4 separate regions of the Homo sapiens genome follow, and regions 1, 2 and 3 are each linked to region 4. Evidence: fine-mapped expression QTL. A gene starts in region 4. Each other region holds a variant in brackets. All regions are shown on one strand. Distances are between the middles of the regions. Region 1 overlaps LOC124903994 (a long non-coding RNA gene). Region 2 overlaps PIP4K2B (phosphatidylinositol-5-phosphate 4-kinase type 2 beta). Region 3 overlaps PSMB3 (proteasome 20S subunit beta 3). Region 4 holds the start of PIP4K2B (phosphatidylinositol-5-phosphate 4-kinase type 2 beta).

What was found. PIP is the estimated chance that this variant, and not a neighbour inherited with it, causes the effect. A credible set is the group of variants that fine-mapping cannot tell apart.
Region 1: its variant is the best candidate, but not a certain one, in a credible set for the expression of PIP4K2B in whole blood (Lepik 2017, PIP 0.87).
Region 2: its variant is the best candidate, but not a certain one, in a credible set for the expression of PIP4K2B in blood mononuclear cells (TOPMed, PIP 0.73).
Region 3: its variant is the best candidate, but not a certain one, in a credible set for the expression of PIP4K2B in tibial nerve (GTEx, PIP 0.80).

Annotation. Positions count from the first base shown.
Region 1 is chr17:38,843,071-38,845,752 of GRCh38, forward strand. LOC124903994 (a long non-coding RNA gene) reads left to right here. Exons shown (of 3, transcript XR_007065743.1): 2 at 1,782-1,806. Among named protein-coding and RNA genes, the nearest start is that of SPMAP1, 3.0 kb to the left of the region's middle. The variant T/G (reference allele first, on the strand shown) is at 1,299.
Region 2 is chr17:38,768,047-38,770,728 of GRCh38, forward strand. It overlaps PIP4K2B (phosphatidylinositol-5-phosphate 4-kinase type 2 beta), which reads right to left. Exons shown (of 10, transcript NM_003559.5): 9 at 2,390-2,493; 10 at 1-1,725. The coding sequence ends at 1,645. Among named protein-coding and RNA genes, the nearest start is that of PSMB3, 17 kb to the left of the region's middle. The variant G/A (reference allele first, on the strand shown) is at 1,451.
Region 3 is chr17:38,763,658-38,766,339 of GRCh38, forward strand. PSMB3 (proteasome 20S subunit beta 3) reads left to right here. Exons shown (of 6, transcript NM_002795.4): 6 at 462-568. The coding sequence ends at 510. It overlaps PIP4K2B (phosphatidylinositol-5-phosphate 4-kinase type 2 beta), which reads right to left. Exons shown (of 10, transcript NM_003559.5): 10 at 2,034-2,682. Among named protein-coding and RNA genes, the nearest start is that of PSMB3, 12 kb to the left of the region's middle. The variant T/C (reference allele first, on the strand shown) is at 1,509.
Region 4 is chr17:38,798,412-38,801,074 of GRCh38, forward strand. PIP4K2B (phosphatidylinositol-5-phosphate 4-kinase type 2 beta) reads right to left here and starts at 1,145. Exons shown (of 10, transcript NM_003559.5): 1 at 855-1,145. The coding sequence starts at 1,013. It overlaps CWC25 (CWC25 spliceosome associated protein), which reads right to left. Exons shown (of 10, transcript NM_017748.5): 10 at 2,030-2,663. RefSeq lists an enhancer at 322-1,140.

The DNA.
Region 1 (2,682 bases), 45 kb after region 4:
GGCTAATTTTGGTATTTTTAGTAGAAACGGGGTTTTGCCATGTTGGCCAAGCTGGTCTCGAACTCCTGACCTCAAATTATCAGCCCACCTCGGCCTCCCAAAGTGCTGGGATTACAGGCATAAGCCACTGTGTCTGGCCTATTATATATATTTTAATATAAATATAAAATGTATATTTTATATTTAAATATTTTATATTTATATTAAAAATATATATATATATTTTTTAGGTGTCACCCAGGCTGGAGTGCAGTGGTGCGATCTTGGCTCACTGAAACCTCTGCCTCCCGGGTTCAATCTATTCTCCTGTGTCAGCATCCTGAATAGCTGAGATTACATGCCCGTGTCACCACCCCAGACTAAATTTTTTTTTTTTTTTGAAATGGAGTCTCACTGTGTCACCCAGGCTGGAGTGCAGTGGCAGGATCTCAGCTCACTGCAGCCTCCCAGGTTCAAGCGATTCTCCTGCCTCAGCTTCCTGAGTAGCTGGAATCACACGCGCACGCCACCACACCTGGCTAATTTTTGTATTTTCAGTAGAGCCGGGGTTTCACCATGTTGGCCAGGCTGGTCTCGAACTCCTGATCTCAGGTGATCCACCTGCCTCGGCCTACCAAAGTGCTGGGATTACTGGCGTGAGCCATCCTGCCCCGCCACCCAGCTAATTTTTTTTTTTTTTTTTTTGAGACAGGGATTCACTCTTGTTGCCCAGGCTGGAGTGCAATGGCGCGATCTCGGCTCACCGCAACCTCCGCCTCCCAGGTTCAAGCGATTCTCCTGCCTCAGCCTCCCTAGTAGCTGGGATTACAGGCATGTGCCACCACACCCGGCTAATTTTGTATTTTTAGTAGAGATGGGGTTTCTCCATGTTGGTCAGGCTGGTCTCGAACTCCTGACCTCAGGTGGTCTGCCCGCCTCAGCCTCCCAAAGTGCTGGGATTACAGGCATGAGCGACCATGCCCGGCCATTAATTTTTGTATTTTTATTATTATTATTATTTTTTTTGAGATGGAGTCTTGCTCTATTGCCCAGGCCGGAGTGCAGTGGTGTGATCTTGGCTCACTGCAACCTCTGCCTCCTGGGTTTACAGGTGCACGCCACCACGCCTAGCTAATTTTTATATTTTTCTAGATACAGGGTTTTGCCAGGCTGGTCTTGAACTCCTGACCTCAGGTGATTTGCCTGCCTCGGTCTCTGAAAGTGCTGGGATTACAGGCGTGAGTAATTTTTGTCTTTTTAGTACAGATGGAGTTTCACCATGTTGGCCAGGCTGGTCTCAAAATTCTGACCTCTAGTGA[T/G]CCTCTCGCCTTGGCCTCTTGCCAAAGTGCTGGGATTACAGGTGTGAGTCACCATGCCCAGCCCCACCCGAGTTATTTTCACCCGCTATTATTTATGCTTGTTTTTTTCCCCTCGAGACATGGTTTCACTCCAATTTCCCAGGCTGGCATGCAGCGTTGCGATCCGGAATCACTGCAACCTCTGCCTCCCGGACTCAAGCGATTCTTCTGCCTCAGCCTCCAATTAGCTGGGATTACAGGCACACGCCACCAGGCCCAGCTAATTTTCGTATTTTTTGTAGAGACAGGGTTTCGCTGTGTTGGCCAGACTGGTTTTGAACTCCTGAGCTCAAGTGATCAGCCCACCTTGGCCTCCCAAGCTGGGAGGATTAGAGCCATGAGCCACCAGGACTGGCCTTATCTTTCCTTTAAAATAACAAAACGGTGGGGGGACACATTACCATATTTTTCCTCCAGCTAATTTTCTTTTTCTTTTTCCTTTAGTTTCCACATACAGCATTGGATCTAGGTAATTATATAAATTACATATTTTATTATTTTATTTATTTCTGAGACAGTGTCGCTCTGTCGCGCAGGCTGCAGTGCAGTGGAGCGATCTAGGCTCACTGCAGCCACCGCGTCCTGGGTTGAAGCCATTCTCCTGCCTCAGCCCAGAGTAGCTGGGAGTACAGATACACACAACCACACCCAGCTAATTTTTTTTGTAGAGACGGAGGTGTTTTTTTTGTTTGTTTGTTTTTTGGGTTTTTTTTTTTTTTTTTTTTTTTGAGACAGAGTCTCGCTGTGTCGCCCAGGCTGGAGTGCAATTGCGCGATCTCGGCTCACTGCAACCTCCACCTCCCGGGTTCAAGTGATTCTTCTGTCTCAGTCTCCCGAGTAGCTGGAGTTACAGGCACCTGCCACCACTCCCAGCTGATTTTTTAATTTTTTTTGAGACAGAGTCTCGCTCTGTTGCCCAGGCTGGAGTGCAGTGGTGCGATCTCGGCTCACTGCAAGCTCCGCCTCCCGGGTTAACGCCATTCTCCTGCCTCAGCCTCCCCAGTAGCTGGGACTACAGGCGCCCGCCACCACGCCCAGCCAATATTTTGTATTTTGTTTAGTACAGACAGGGTTTCATTGTGTTAGCTAGGATGGTCTCGATCTCTTGACCTCGTGATCCGCCCGCCTTGGCGTCCCAAAGTGCTGGGATTACAGGCATGAGCCACCGCGCCTGGCCTAATTTTTATATTTTTAGTAGAGACGGGGTTTCACCATTCTGGCCGGGCTGGTCTTAAACTCCTGACCTCGTGATCCGCCCATCTCAGCCTCCCAAAGTGCTGGGATTACAGGCGTGAGCCACCATGCCCGGCCTTGTTTTTTTTTTGTTGTTGTTTTTTGTTTTTGT
Region 2 (2,682 bases), 30 kb before region 4:
TGGTTCCTGCTTCGGAAGCTGGGCTTGGCCAGGTTTGGAGGGAGCCACAGGAAACCAATCTATTCATTCAAAATGGTTTCACAAGCGATCTTCACATCTTTGGGGTTATCTACAAGTCTGACCATATCTCATCCCAAATCCCCAGTTCCTGGTTGAGGGGGTGAGAAGATGCAGGAATGTACCTCCCCCAATGCAGAACAACAGAGCTGTTTCTCTCCTGGCCAGAGCAGCCTGTGGCTCAGTTCTGAGGGCCTGGGTGGCAGGCTCCGAAGGCAGGTGGAACACCTGCAGGAAGCCACTCCTTCCAAAAAAGCCTGTGGGCTGCAGATCTGCTAAAAGTCTAGAGCGGGGCAACAAGGAAAAACAGCCCCAAGGCTGAGGCCAGGTCAAAACCCACATCAAGCCTCCAAACTGGATTTCCTGGATCACATCCTCATGTAACTAGGAAGCCACCTCACGTTTGGACACCACACTCTAAGATGGGGGCACCTTGCTGGCTGTAACTCTCCAGGCACAGGGAGACAGATCTCCTACAAGGTCATCCCGGAGCTTAACGAGGTGTCTCTGCTAAAAAGCACTCCAGGCGCTTGGAGATCTGCCCAGAGCTAAGAGTTCGGCTAGAAGTAAGAGTGCCTGGGAGGAGGTCAGAAGGAAGAAGGAAATAGATCGAGGGCACAGGGCCTCATTTGATACATCAGTTTCTGAAGTTTTCCCAAAGGGAAATAACCATTTAAACATGAGGGTCCTGATAAATCCAAAGGTACTCTAGTTCCTCTTGACCTAGTGGGAGGCAGGCTTTACAGAGAGGACTTCTGAACTCCAGGGGCTAAGACAGCCTGGGGCTTGGGTGATCATCACAGGGTTCTCTGAGAACCAGGTGTCCAAGAGCCCAGCCGCTTTCCTGCCCCTCACCATCCCATGAGGATGAACTTATTCCCCTCTGAGATCTCTGATTCTGATCTGAGATCTCTGGTGTTGACCTGGTGTATTCCAGACAGGATGGAGGAATAATGCAACAGTTTTCACTTGAATCCAAGGGAAAGGTGGAGGAAGTTGTGCACAATACTCCATAAATTACAAAGTTAATCCAGACAAGAGCAAATGCAGCAGGGCGAGGTGTCTGACCTCTCCAATCTGGCATCCATAGCACTTGGTTCTGGAAGGACCCTTGTGCTGGGTCTACCGGGTATCTCTTTAATTGAAGGGAACTGAGAGCTCAGCAAAGATGGGGAGGGTGGGTAGGCTGATGAAATATGATTATAAATAGCAAACCTGGAGCAATGAAATTTCAGAAACAAAACCCAAATAAACCCACGAAGTCATCTCTAGCCCCAAGGTATCTTAAAAGGTTACAAGGTACCAAAAAGGGAACCCCTTTTTAACCTGGGTGTCAAATGGGGAGAAAAAATCAAGGGTAAGCAGAAGGTGGGGTTACATCCTGTGAGCAGGT[G/A]CACACACAGCACATCCCCCTCCTCTTCAGCTAAAGTCTCTTTCGGTGTCACAGGCTGCAGTCTCATTGCTAAAGCCCTCCCAAACCCGACTCTGCTCCCACCCTCCCATCTAGCCCAAATACACCCTTCTCCCTAACTCCCGATCCCCGACCCCATATCCAGCTCTCTGGCTCTGGCTGAAGGTAGAAGAGAACTACGTCAGGATGTTGGACATAAACTCGTTGAAGCGTTTGGAGTACTGCTCAGGGTTCACAGTCGAGATCTCGGCCCCTGCCTGTAATACACAAGAGGCTGATTCAGGTTGAGTTCCTGTGCCCCAATCAGGAGGCTGCACATGGGGGGAGCCAGGGTATTCAGAAGCCTCTTACTCAGTATCAGAGCTGAATACCACCCCCAACCCCACCAAGACTGAGCAGACCACCTCAGGAAGTGGCATACAAGTCCTGAACTGTCCTGGCCCCACTCCTGTGATTTATAACCCCAGGCCTGCACCGAAGTAGAAGAAAGGCAGTGGGGAGGTGGCAACGCGGCTCTGGATCTCTGTGGGGGCCACTACATGGAGAACAGGGCTTCAGGCCCACAGGGAAACAGGCCTGTGGGGAGCAGTATGGGCATGGAAACAAAGCTATTACTCGCCCTTCAACAAGATGCACAACAGGCCCAGCAGGCCCTGGGGAAAGACACTGGCAGGCTTGGCCCCGAGGGCTGGAGAACTGGGGGATAAACAAATTGGGCCCAGCCTGGCAGGGAGCAGGTGGGTGAAGGCAGGGAACATGGCAAGGCAGGCAGGCTGCTCTTCCAGTCTGCTCTCCTGGGAAGAAGGAGACAGGAGTGTGTTCCTTGGAGCAGGAGGCCTGAGACTGCCCTCCCTGGGGTCTGAGGGTAAGCACAGATGCACCGACCCAGCTGGGCCCTGGATGAAGATGGAGAGGACTCACCCCGTGTTTCACCGTTTTGGCAGCATGTGCAGCTTTCTTCTTTGTATCGTATGGCGTGAGGATATCAATGATGGCCATGAAATACACCTCCTTCTTGGGGGAACCTGGAGGGACAAGGAGAGCAGGGAAGAAGGAAGAGGGGGCAGGAGAAGGGCAGACAGCAGCTGGGCACTGCTACAACCCCCAGACACAAGGCTCAGCTCCATCCTTATCATGTTGGGGCTGAGAAAAGGACCAGTGGAGTCCTTTCCAGCTGTCATAGCTCTTATCTTATTGGATCTTCACAGTCACTC
Region 3 (2,682 bases), 35 kb before region 4:
ATGCCCAGCTAATTTTTGTATTTTTAGTAGAGACGGGGTTTCACCATGTTGGTCAGGCTGGTCTTGAACTCCTGACCTCGTGATCCGCCTGCCTCAGGCCTCCCAAAGTGCTGGGATTGCAAGCATGAGCCACCGCGCCCGGCCAAGCTCCTTCCCTTCTTTTGAGAGCTGTGAAGTCTGGCCCTGAATCATTTTCTGGGAAAGCCTCCCTGAGGTGGTTCCACCTGTGGAAAGTCGGCCCAGGTCTCTGTTCCTATCCCTCCTTCCTCACCACAGGCGGAGGAGATGAGCTAGCAGGAATGAACTAGAGCAGGATAGTTACACCTAGAGGCAGCGGGCAGCTATTTGTTCTGCTCCCTTGCCGCAGGGCTTGAGGGCTTGGTGCTGAGGGCCAGGAGAGCTAGTCACAGTCACGGTCCAGATGGGTAGAGATGTTTTCTTGTGATTTTCTCCCTCTGCAGCGAGAAGGACAAAATCACCACCAGGACACTGAAGGCCCGAATGGACTAACCCTGTTCCCAGAGCCCACTTTTTTTTCTTTTTTTGAAATAAAATAGCCTGTCTTTCACTCCTGCTTTTGTCTTTGATGCTTTCCTGCAGATCTCTGCCCTAGCTGGGCAGCTACAGCCAGCCACTCAAGTGTGTGTGGCCTGGCCCTCGGCTTGCTTTCTGGCTCGTGCTCTACTCCATCAGTGCGTGCCAGTGGGGACAATCCACATGTCACTTGCTGCATGCTCCCTGTGTGCTAGGCCCCACACAAGTGCTTTACACGATCTAGAATTTATTCATCATAATGACTCAAGGTAGTTGAGATTATCCTTGTTTGGAGAAGAAGGACAGTTAAATAACTTACCCAAGTCTACTTTAATAAGTGATAAAGCCAGGACATAAACTCATGTTCCATTGATGCCAGAGCTTAGAATCCTTTTCACTCAAACTCTACGGGAAAACCCTTACATCTTTTATTGCTTCAGGTAGAAATTTGGTCAAGTACCCATAAGTAGTCTAGATTAGTGTTTCTTAACCTGGCCAGCTCATTAGTCACCTGTGGAATTCCTAAAACACATACCTTGATCCCACCCCTTGAGATTCCAATTGGCCTTTTAGGGGCCTGGGTACCTGTCTTTTCCAGAATTCCCCAAGTGATTCCAGCTTGCAATCTGCAGTACATAGATGGCCTAATAAGCAAGTAGAAAGTTTGCATAGCAGAGTGGTTCCCAAACGTTAGCCCCCATCACAATCACCTGGAGGGCTCATTAAAAGTTTGATTCAGTAGATCTGGGTTGGAACCTGAGAATTTACATTTCTGACTCCCAGGTGCTAATGACACTGCTGGTCCAAGACCACACTTTGAGAACTACTGGGTTTTAAGCTAAATGCCCAGATGCAGTAGATGAGGTGCACAGAGGTGACATGTTCAAAGTTATGTCAGGTGAGTGGCTCCTAGCCAGAGTTCGTTCTACACAGCTGGAGGCGGGGGGGCGGGGGGGGGGTTGTCCATTCTTCCA[T/C]GTGCATGGTAGTAACAGCTAACAGGCAGATTGGCTCTGGTGCTGTGGTGTTTTGTTTGTTTTTTCCTTAAGAGTCTCATTGTTGCTAGGGCTGGAGTGCTGTGGTGCAATCATGGCTAACTGCAGCCTCAACCTCCCAAGCTCAAGTGATCCTCCTGCCTCAGCCTCCTGAGTAGCTGGGACTACAGACATGTGCCATCACATCCAGCTAATTCTTGTTTTGTAGAGACGGGGTCTCACTATGTTACCCAGACCGGTACTGAACTTCTGGGCTCAAGTGATCCTCCTGCCTTGGCCTCCCCAAGTACTGGGCGTGAGCCACCAAACCCAGCCAGTGGTGCTGTGCTTTTAACCACTGTTTATTAATTGCATCTGAAAGCGGGATGTCATTGACCATATTCTTTCTCCAAACTCAAGCCATACATTGATTTAGCCGAAGCTGCCTCTAAAGCTAGGACCAAAACTTTTTAATTCTGGGAAGAAAAAAAAAAGGTTCATTTCCCAAGGACTCACACATAACAGATGTACACAAAGCTTTTTGAGTTTTATTTTTTTCCTCAGGTTGGAGATTCATCGTAACATGCATGCATTTTCAAACAGTAACAGGGTCTCAAACTTTTTAAAGCAGACGTTAGACAAGCACAGGGGATTGAAAATTCCCATTTAAAAAATGGAAACTGCAGTGGGATATGGAGAAGTCACACACTTGGTGGGGTGGTGGTTTGTCCTGCTTCCCCAAAAGGTGGATATGAACTTAATTCACATTTTTTAATTTCAATGATCTGACCTGATGCTGGGATGTGCCGAGCAGTACTGCCCCCTCCCCCAAGGGTGTTGGCTCCCACCGCCTCTCACAGTGGCTCTGCGCAAGGGCAAGAGGCTCCTGTGGAAACTTCTGCCCTGGGATACTGGCACAAGCTGCCAAGGGACAGCTGAGTCTCCTTTTCCCCATGGGGCACTCTTCATAAGTGGCACATTCTAGAGGAGGGAGAGGGCCACGGTCACTGACCCCTGCAGATGGCTGGTAGATTGGGGAACAGTTGTCTGAATGGGTTTTCCCTTTCAGGACCTCCTGCCCGCATGACTGCCAGGAAGAGATGAGGCTCCTAGACTTGGGGGGCCACAGGTTTAAGGCCAGAGCTCTGAGTGTTGTTTAAACGCACTGTCCCTTCTA
Region 4 (2,663 bases):
CAGGGGCTGTTGAACAATCTCAAAGCACCCTAAGGACCCAGGGGACCTATCTCTCCTATCTAGGACCATAATCACTATGCATCATCACAACATTGCAGCCACACAACAGATAAGTCAACATCTTTAAAATGATCACCTTCAAAAACTATGGGAAGACATATTATTTCTACTATGAATAGTCCCTCCTTATAACCAGGCATCCTCTTCTCTCAAATGGTTAATAGCCATTCTTTCTTCTCCCTAACCCAGAGAGACCCAGGTGAAGTGTCTGGTTCAAGGAAGCCTGTGCTTCTCCAGTTGATACATCTTGTTCAAGAGGGAAAAAAAAGGAAACCCAGGGTGGAGTTCTACATTCAAAGGTAAGGAGGCCTGGAGGATGGAAGAATTTGAGCAGCCACAACAACCAAACGATCAGAAAGAGAGGACTATTTGGGCAGACCACTGCTACTTGACAGAGCTGGCAGCCGGCTGTAAGGAACAAGGGGGAATATACACCCTCACAAACAGGATGAGGGGGGAGGAGGAGAAGCAGGGATGAAAGCGACTCCACTGCACTGAGGCCTTGCCTTTGCGCTCCATGGGCTGCCCCAAGCGAGCACGCCACACGCAGGAAGCCAGAAGGGCTGGAGGGAAGGGGAGGTGGCGACGGCAGACCACAGAGACACCAGGCCTCGCGTGGCGTGCGGGGAGTGCACACGGGGCCGAAAGGCGTGCAAGGGTGGGGTGGGCGTGCAAGTGGCTTGGCGAGGGGTGGCAGGCGTCACCGGCAGGGCCTGCGGGGCAAGGGCCCAGGGCTGCAGGGGGCGTGGGAGCGCGCGGGGCCGCGCTCAGAGGGGCGCGCAGGAGCTGGTTACCGTGTGGTTCACCCCCCACATCAGGACGCTGAGGATCGGCTCGCTGGCCCGGAATAGCTTCACTTTCTGGCACACGAAATGCTTCTTCTTGGTCTTGGTCTTGCTGGCGCTGAGCGGCGCCACCGCCACCGCCGTGGTGCTGGTGCAGTTGGACGACATGCCCGGGGCGGCGGCGGCGGCGGCGAAAGAGGGGGGCGGCGGAGACAGCGCACAAGCCAGCGGCCTCAGGCCTCCCCCGGACCGATCCCCACCCCCGCTCCCTCACCGCGCCATGGTCGCGCCCGTCCCGTTACCTCCCACCCCGCCCCGGTGGTTCCGTCCGCCCCACGCCCCGCCCTCCCGCCCCGCCCCGGGGAGCCCGCCGGCCCGCTCCGCACCCCGCCCCCGGGCGGTGCAGCCGCCCTGCAGTCCCCTGGCCCCGTCCTCCCCGTCCGCGTGGTACGGCCCGTCCCGGGGAGGCAGCGGCCGCCCCGCCCGCCCCTCCTCCCCGGGCCTGACAGAAACCCGCCTGGCCTCCGAACGCCTCGGGGCCCCGTGCCGGAGCCGGAAGGGGAGGAGGGCTGGGCAGGCGTCGCTGTGGACCGCGGGAGGGGCTCCCCGCCCGGGCCCCCCAACGCCAGGGTTTGGCTCTTTCCCGCAACCCGAATGCCAAGATGGCGGCGATGCCACCGCTCCGGAAGGGAAGGAGGGACGGGAATGCGAGGAGGGCGGGACGTACCATGCCCACCCCGGGGGAGAGGAGGGACGCAGCAAGGGGAAGAGAAAGTCCAGCCTAGAAAGCCAAGGAACGCCCCCTCGCTCCACCTAAGCGTGGATCTGCCCACTCTGCTGGGCCCCGGGCGCGCTCCACCCGCGGGGCACGCCCCTTGCCCCCAGGGCCAATGAGAGAAGCAGGCCAGGAACACTGGTTTTTATGAATGGGCCCCGCGCCCACCCACCTGCTGCCTGTTCTCCCCGCAAAGGGTCAGAGCTCAGAGGCCGCCAGCACCTTCAGACACCTATCCCACTAATCGTCTTACTCTGGCTCATTTCGTAAAATCTTTGAGTAAACTGCCCCACGCTTTGTTACATAATTCTCAGATGAGGGATCTCCATATATTCGACACAAATTACAGGTCAACGTTGTTCTTTCTGCATGGAAATTCGTAAACACGGTACTCCACAGGTGGTCGCTCTTTAAACAGTTACAAAAATAAATGTGGCCTTTATTACCAATTATAAAATAAACATAATTAACCCCGGCATAATGAAGTGATTAAATGAATAAAAACGTATGTTACATTCTCTAGGGAAAGATCGGGTTTCAAGCATTACAGTGCCTGGCATCATAAGTGTTCAAAAACAGAAATCCAAATACATTTTAAGCAGAATTAGGAATTAGCAGAACAAGGAAATCGCCCAGCTAATGTGCGGGTCAAGAGGGCCTAGGAGTTCACTGGTCAAATGAGGGCTTCTGGTGAAAGAATAGAGAAGGGAAAAGGAGTAAAGACAGGAGAGTGGCCCCTCGAGGGTTTTGTTTTGTTGCTGTTGTTTTTTGAGACGGAATCTCGCTCTGTCACCCAGGCTGGAGTGCGGTGGCACAATCTCGGCTCACTGCAAGCTCCGCCTCCTGGGTTCACGCCATTCTCCTGCCTCAGCCTCCCGAGTAGCTGGGACTACAGGCGCCCGCCACCACGCCCGGCTAATTTTTTGTATTTTTTTAGTAGAGACGGGGTTTCACCGTGTTCGCCAGGATGGTCTCGATCTCCTGACCTCGTGATCCGCCCACCTCAGCCTCCCAAAGTGCTGAGATTACAGGTGTGAGCCACC